2 linked regions of the Homo sapiens genome follow. The protein of the gene in region 2 interacts with the protein of the main gene of each other region in a biochemical or structural test. Each region holds a gene or a part of one and is shown on either strand. Other genes may lie near its edges.

The links.
Region 1: the proteins of COL18A1 (region 2) and ITGB1 form a complex in vitro, tested with the Homo sapiens proteins (one study listed by BioGRID).

What each region holds. Positions count from the first base shown.
Region 1 is NC_000010.11:32,906,067-32,909,880, forward strand, and holds part of ITGB1 (integrin beta-1 isoform 1A precursor), read right to left. Parts: intron 2,469-3,814; coding exon 2,302-2,468; intron 1,078-2,301; coding exon of another isoform or gene 1,003-1,077; exon of another isoform or gene 997-1,002; intron 1-996.
Region 2 is NC_000021.9:45,411,495-45,415,308, reverse strand, and holds part of COL18A1 (collagen alpha-1(XVIII) chain isoform 4 preproprotein), read right to left. Parts: intron 1-3,814. UniProt on the Homo sapiens protein: Probably plays a major role in determining the retinal structure as well as in the closure of the neural tube.

The sequences.
Region 1 (3,814 bases), on a different chromosome or scaffold from region 2:
CACATATATATATAATATACATACATATATATGGTCTTCTGGCTTTTAATGAAATTTCAAGTTATATTCAAGAAATTGATCTCAAATCTTTTGAGAACCAATAATGATATTGTAGTTGCATACCATACAAATATCATAGTAGGTTATATTTTTCTATTTTGCAATTTGGATTTCGTGATCAATTTTCACTATCCAACCCTAAAATTTACTCATAACAAATTTGTTATTTAAGGATAATACTGGTGGGGCACAGTGGCTCACGCCTGTAATCCCAGCACTTTGGGAGACCGAGGTGGGCAGAGCACTGGAGGTCAGGAGTTCAAGGCCAGCCCAGCCAATGTGGTGAAACCCCATCTCTACTAAAAACAAAAAAATTAGCCTAGCATGGTGGCAGGCACCTGTAATCCCAGGTACTCGGGAGGCTGAGGCAGGAGAATTGCTGGAATCTGGAAGTCAGAGGTTGCAGTGAGCTGATATCACACCACTGCACTCCAGGCTGGGCGACAGAGAGAGACTGTCTCAAAATAAATAAATAAATAAACAGAAAAAGAACAAAAGATAATAGGATAATATCATTCTAGGCACAGGACTGTTATGAGGATTAGAGCTGACAGGCTGATTTCATATACTGGAGTGCATTTGCCAAATACAACCACCCCATACAAAACAGAGTACTGACTCCCTGTGACAGTTGAGAGAAGTGAAGTGACTCAATGCTGTTCTACTTACTAAGTGGAAGAGGTGGGATTTGACCTGAGGTCTAACTGATTGCAAAGCACATTCTCTTTTCACTACAACATGGCTGCTGTTTCTATATCACATTACTTATTTTACGGTCTTTCTAAACGCGAAGTTAACATACAAAAAGAAAAGCCACAATAGCGATATTTAAAGCCAGACTTAAAAAAAGAACAGCAATAGTGATAAAGGACACACAGTGCAGTAAAAAAGATAGAAGTTCACATGCAAAGGCAGAAAGTGAAACAAAATACGAACGGCAATTTAGAGACCAGCTTTACGTCCGTAGTTTGGATTCTTGAAATTATTAATAGGACTCTTGTAAATCGGATTTTCTTGCTAAAGTAAAAGAAATAGTTTCTAATGATTTCATCAGAAAAAAAAAATCCCTTTATAGTGTTTGAACACTATAAATGTCTTTTTTTTTATTTCTACCCTTCTGAAATTTGTAATTTAAAAAATTGATAATTTTTAAAAACCCAAGCAAATTGTAGTAAAGTGCAACTAACTACAAAATTCATTTACAATTTAAAAATACTGAAGATTGGCATTGCTTTCTTGTATCAAAAGATGAATACACAAAGGCCAACATTTGGTTACCCCACCCTCTGACTCCATATTTCAAAGCACTCAATGCTAACATAACCTTTCGGTCACTTAGGGCTTTTAAGATTTTTATAAGCCAAAGTTTACTGAGATATAATTTTCATAGAGGAACATACATCTTTTTAAAGTACATAGTTCTGTGAGTTTTCAAATACATAAATCCACCCACAATCAAGATCATCCCAAGGAAGATCCCTTACGCCCCTCTGTGGTCAACACTTTCCCCCATTCCAGCCCCTAGCAACCACTGATTTTTGCCCCTACAGTTTTGCTTTTCCAGAATGTCCTCTAAATGGAATCATATAGTATATAGCAGGGGTGTCCAATCTTTTGGCTTCCCTGGGCCACACTGGAAGAAGAAGAATTGTCTTGGGCCACACATAAAATACACTAACGATAGCTGATGAGCTTTAAAAAAAAGTTACCAAAAAAAAATAATAATAATAATTACAATTTCTAAGAAAGTTTACAAATTTGTGTTGGGGCCACATTCAAAGCTATTCTGGGCTGCATGTCCTGGCCGACGAGCTGCGAGTTGGACAAGCTTGGTATATAACCTTTTGAATCTGGCTTTCACTGAAGGTTTTTTTTGTTTGTTTGTTTTAAAGAAAGAAGCAGCTTTCCATTGAATAGCTTGCTACACAGATAACATTATTTAGGATTCTACTTCACATTAGATGAAAAGGCAGATTTAGGATCAAAACTATTAAAGAAATAAAAATACTGGCCACAGTAACCAGAATATACATGCTTATAATCAATGTTTTGTTTCAATGGGATATATTTAGGATGCTTTCTGTTTTTCACTAAATGCAAATTCCTTGAGTAAGAAACTTTTGGGGGAATAAAATACTTAGAAAGGACTTTAATAATCAGCCTGACAGCTAATACATAAGTCTTAGGAGTATTACATTTACTTTATAAGCCACTTTGCTTTTTGGATGTTTTGTAACTTACCGTGTCCCATTTGGCATTCATTTTCTCCTTTTCAAATTTAGCAAACTCCCTTCTGTCATGAATTATCATTAAAAGCTTCCATATCAGCAGTAATGCAAGGCCAATAAGAACAATTCCAGCAACCACACCAGCTACAATTGGAATGATGTCTGGACCAGTGGGACACTCTGGAAAATAAGAAGGTAATAATGAGCACCACAAAGAGCTGTGCAGTGTCTTATAAAAAACATACAGGAATAAACACCCAAGAGAGTGAACGCACACTATCCCAAAGAATCTATAAAATAGCTCTTAGAACTAACAAGTGAGTTTACAAGGTTGCAGGATACATGATCAATGAACAAAAATCATGTATTTTTCTATATATATAATTTATTTCTACATATTGAAAATATAAGTTTTTAAACAGTAATATTTACTACAGAATGAAAAAGCATGAAAAACTTACATATAAGTCTAACAAAATATATGCAAGATTTGCATGTTAAGAATTACTAAATACTGATAAAAAGAAATCTTTCAGACTGAATAAATGGAGAGATATTCCATGTGCAGGAGTTACAAAACCTAATACCGTTAAGACGTCAATTCTTCCCAATTTGATCTATAAACTCAATGGTATCCCACTCAAACTCCTGGCAGAACTTCTGTAGCAATCAGTAAGCCACTTCTAAAATTTACATGGAAGGCAGGGAACTAAGGAAGTGTCTCAAAAACACTTTTGTAAAAGAATAAAGTTGGAAGACCCTGCTTTCAGGCCTAGCTATAAAGAAAGCTACAAGACCATGTGGTATAGCTAACACTCAGATACATGGAACAGAATACAGAGTCAGAAACAGGCCTACACATGTAAGGTCACCTGATGTTCAACAAAGGTGGAGAAAAGACAGTCTTTTTTCAACAAATGCCCCTAGAACAAGTGGACACTGACATGAAAAAAACTGAGCCTTTTGTCACACACTAACTCAAAATGAGTTACAGATCTAAATGTGAAACCCCAGAAACTATAAAACTTCTACCAAAAAACAGAGGAGAAAAATCCTTATAATCTTGGGTTAGGCAGAGTTCTTAAAGACAATGTAAAAGCAAGAGCCACAGAAGAAAAACTTGGTAAACTGTACTTAATCAAAATTAAAACCTGTGGTGTTCAGAAGACACTTAAAAAAATGAAATGATAAGGAGACACAGGCTGGGAGACAATATTTGCAAAACACCTAGCTGATAATTCAAAACAGTATGGGAGTCTAAGAGTCTGGCAGCTTCTTAACAAAGTTAAACATATGCTTACCATATGCTCCAAAATGCCATTTTTAGTATTTACCCAAGAGAAATGAAAGCTTATGTTCACACAAAAACATGTACACTATGGTAGAAAATTCCAAAGAATCTACAAAAAGGCTACTAGGAAAACTAAGATTAAAAAAAAAAAGTTTCACCTCCGGAGAAGTTGAACAAATTCAACACTTTATATTAATATCCTTTAACAAATTATCTTTCCCAGTATTCAAGCTTA
Region 2 (3,814 bases):
GGGTGGCCCTGGGTGTGCAGGAAGTGCTCGTATTCTGACCCCCAGCAGCCTTGAGGGTCCTGCTGAAGCCGGCACACATCCAAGACTTCCTGCCCCACAGAGTGGCCCTTCGCAGGTGAGAGGCCCTTATTCCCATGGTCACTAATGCCACCCCTTCGGTGAACCAACACCACGCCGCACTGTCACCTCTGGCTGCTGGGACAAGTCAGTCAGTGTCTTAAAGCAACACAGGCATCCCTCAGAGCTCAGGAGACTGGAAGTCAGAAGTCACGGTGCCCGCAGGGGTCCTCTGGAGGCTCCAGGGGGAACCCACTTCCTGGTCTTCTCATGCCCTCCCCAGCGGCTCCATCTCCATCATCCCCTCCTCTCCCTGTCCTGCCCCTTCTCTATAAGGACCCTCGTAATGACGTGGGGCCCACCTGATAATCCAGGGTCATCTGCACCTGATCCTGAGCCTCATCCCACACACAGGCCATACTCACGGGTCCCACAGGCCGGGGTGGTCAGCTCGGGGTCAGTATTCGGCCTTCTATGCGTGTGATCGGAAGTGGAAGCATAAATGAGGGTTTTGGGTTTTGTTTCTTAGGTTCGGGGACATTAGTGTCCATCTGTCTGCCCTCTCACTGGCGGGCAGGGCTGTTTTCTGGTCTGGGAGGCTGGCTGTCCGTGAGGCCCTCAGGCCACATGCCCGGAGCATGGCCATCAGCAGGGGCCAGGCCTGGGGCAGAGTCGGCCGCAGGGTCCGAGCCTTGTCTGCAGGAGGCCGCCCAGGTCTGTTAAAATGCCAGACGTCCCCTGTGATGACAGGAAAGGCTGAATTGGGACAGGTGGTCTTCCTGGTTTCCAAACCTCCCACAACATTCTCAGTCATTTTCACAATAGAAACGTGTGACTAACAACCTGAGTAGGTCGGACTGGAGCCCATTCCTTTGGGGGTGAAGTCTCATTTCAGCTGGAAAACAGGGATGTCCTGCTGCCCCGAGGGGATCAGAGACCCCGCATCAAGATGTGCCCCCGAAAGGGAGACAGGGCTGAGATTTGGGGACCCAAAACAGATGAGAGGTCAGCAGCAACACTGCCTGCCAGGCACAGGCACACCATGGCCTCCTAGCAAGAGGCAGGGCAGCAGCAAAGCCAGGAGAAGGGAGCTGATTGACGGCCAGAGCCACAAGGCTGGGCAGGAGGGCCTGGGGCCAGGCGGTGCATCCAATACAGAAAGGGCCTCCCCCTCCTCCTCCCGATCCTCCTCCTCCACCTCCTCCTGCTCCTCCAAGGGACCAAGGCTCAGAGAGCAGAGATGGTTCAGGTGCACACGGGCTTGGAGAGGGCAAGCTGTTTAGCTGAAATGAGAATTTATACTAGAAGACGCCTCCCAGCTCCATGGACCAGCTCACTCCATAAGGCTCCTGCCCCTGAGGGTCCGCCACCTCCCTCAGCACCCCTCCAATCCCACACCTAGGGAATTTCCTGGGAACCTGCCTTTTAAACCCTCTCCATCCTCTACCCTGCCTCTAGCCTCTGCAAAGGCCCAGGCACAAGTGCTGGGCATGGCTGGCGGGGCCTTTGCTTCCCTCAGTGCCCAGGGACAAGGATGTGCAGGGCTGGCAGAGGGACCCCAAGGTTAGCGTGGACGGGATCCATGGACGCTTCCTTCTTTCTGGCTGGAAGGCTGAGATGATAACAGAAAGGAAGCGGATGTTCTCTGAACTCCTCCTCAGAGGCAGCACATGAGGCTAAACTTTACAAAGCACAGACGCCTCCCTCCGGGAACTGCCTCTTCACAAGAAAGCTCCTCGCTGGGGCAAAAGAGGCCCGGCTTTCTCAGAAGTCTCCTGACAGCCGAGGGGTCGTAGCGGGAGACTTTAGAAAATGTTTGCCGCCCAGTCACAAATCCAGCAAGTGGAGGAGACAGGTGTTCCCTGGGTCCCCGCGACAGGGGCGTTGAAGCCTGTCATGGTGCAGGCGCCCTGGCCTGCGGACACGTAGCGCGGCTGGAGGAGGTGGGAATGGCTGCCCTCTCTAATACACATCTTTCAGTTCAGCAGGCACAGCGCGGGGCTCAGTAAGAAGCAGCACAAAAGCTGTGTCTGCTCACGGGGACCCATTTTACTCACGTTGCAAACCAGTCCCTCCTACGGGGCTCTGCCCTAAGGGTGGGGATGGAGCCCTCTCTCCACTGTGGCGTCCCCCCTAGAGCCTCAGGACCGGCTGGCCTCAGAGGGCTGTCAGCAGGACACACCCCAGGAAGCCGATGTGTGATGTCCCATCCTTCCTGTATGGCCCCATGACGCTCCACCATCCCCAGGCACAGATTAGAGACCAAGACACGGAGAGGGTGAGCAGCCTGCCCGTGGCCACACACACTCAGGGTCACAGCCTGAGCTCTCAGCCATCACACTAGGCGGCATCCCACCCATGAGGGCAAAGAGGACCATAGATGACGGCCAGGCTTCCTGACAGTTTAGCCACTACTGTGAGAAGCATCTCTAATTCCATATCCACAAAGGCAGAGTCAAGACGCTAACAGCTGACAGGTGCCACGTGGCCTCCCCACAGGCACTGAGGCCTCAAGCACCTTCACTTGCAGGACCCTCACGGCCCCTCAGCAGACCTGCACCACAGATGAGCAAAGTGGCAGGGCCAGCTCCATTGTCTGTGTGCCTGGGCCGCAGGCCCCTGAGCTCTGCTGGCCACTCCAGGGTGCCATCTCTAAAGGGACCAGAAAAATGAGGAAAAACAACTCCACACATTAAGAAATATACCCCATGGCTGGGCACAGTGGCACACGCCTGGAATCCCAGCACTTTGGGAGGCCGAGGCAGGTGGACCACCTGAGGTCAGGAGTTTGAGACCAGCCTGGCCAACATGGCAAAACCCCGTCTCTACTTTAAAAAAAAAAAAAAAATTAGCCAGGCGTGGTGGCCCACACCTGTAGTCCCAGCTACTCAGGAGGCTGAGGCAGGAGAATCGCTTGAGCCCGGAAGATGGAGGTTGCAGGGCGCCAAGATCACGCCACTGCACTCCAGCCTGGGCAACAGAGCCAGACTCCATCTCGAAAAAAAAAAAAAAAAGAAATATACCCCCAGTTAAAGAAATATCATACCCCCAGTTAAAGGCTGACCATAAACAATAAAAGTACGCAAAATAGGACATCCAGAGCTGAAAGCATCAACAGACAAAAAGCTACGGGGAAAGAGAATGCACCTGCAGGGCAGTGGGCACGAGCCACAAACCCGGCATTCCCAGAGAAGCACGACGGCCCCTTAGTGCGTGAAAAAGTTCACCCACACGGTGAACGCCACGTTCCCAGAGAAACACGACGGCCCCTTAGTGGATGAAAATGTTTGCCCGCATGGCAATGGGGACTCACAAAACAGAACTCTGAGATGATATTTTCCATCAACCAAATTAGCAAGGTTTTTAAAAGACAGGATCCAGCCTGGCCGTTTGGGCCGCAGAGCTGTGTGTAAATGAACGTCGCCCATCAGAAGCGAGGCCCTCCCCTCTCCTGCAGGTCCCTGACCACAGCCTGCCCCCCCCCCACCCCCCGCCATCAGCCCTGACTCTGGCTGGGGTGACACCCAAGATAAGAGCTGTGAGAAGACGAAGCCCTCGCCTGTGTCAGCGATAAGGGTGCACTGTTCCCTATGACTGCTCACTCACAGCGCCGGGCCCTCCAGAGCCTGTGTCAGCGATAAGGGCACGCTGTTCCCTGTGACTGCTCGTTCACAGCGCCGGGCCCTCCAGACTGTGGGCGTCTGAGGCTTACTCCGGGCCCTTCAGACTGTGGGTGTCCGAGGCTCATTGTGGTGTT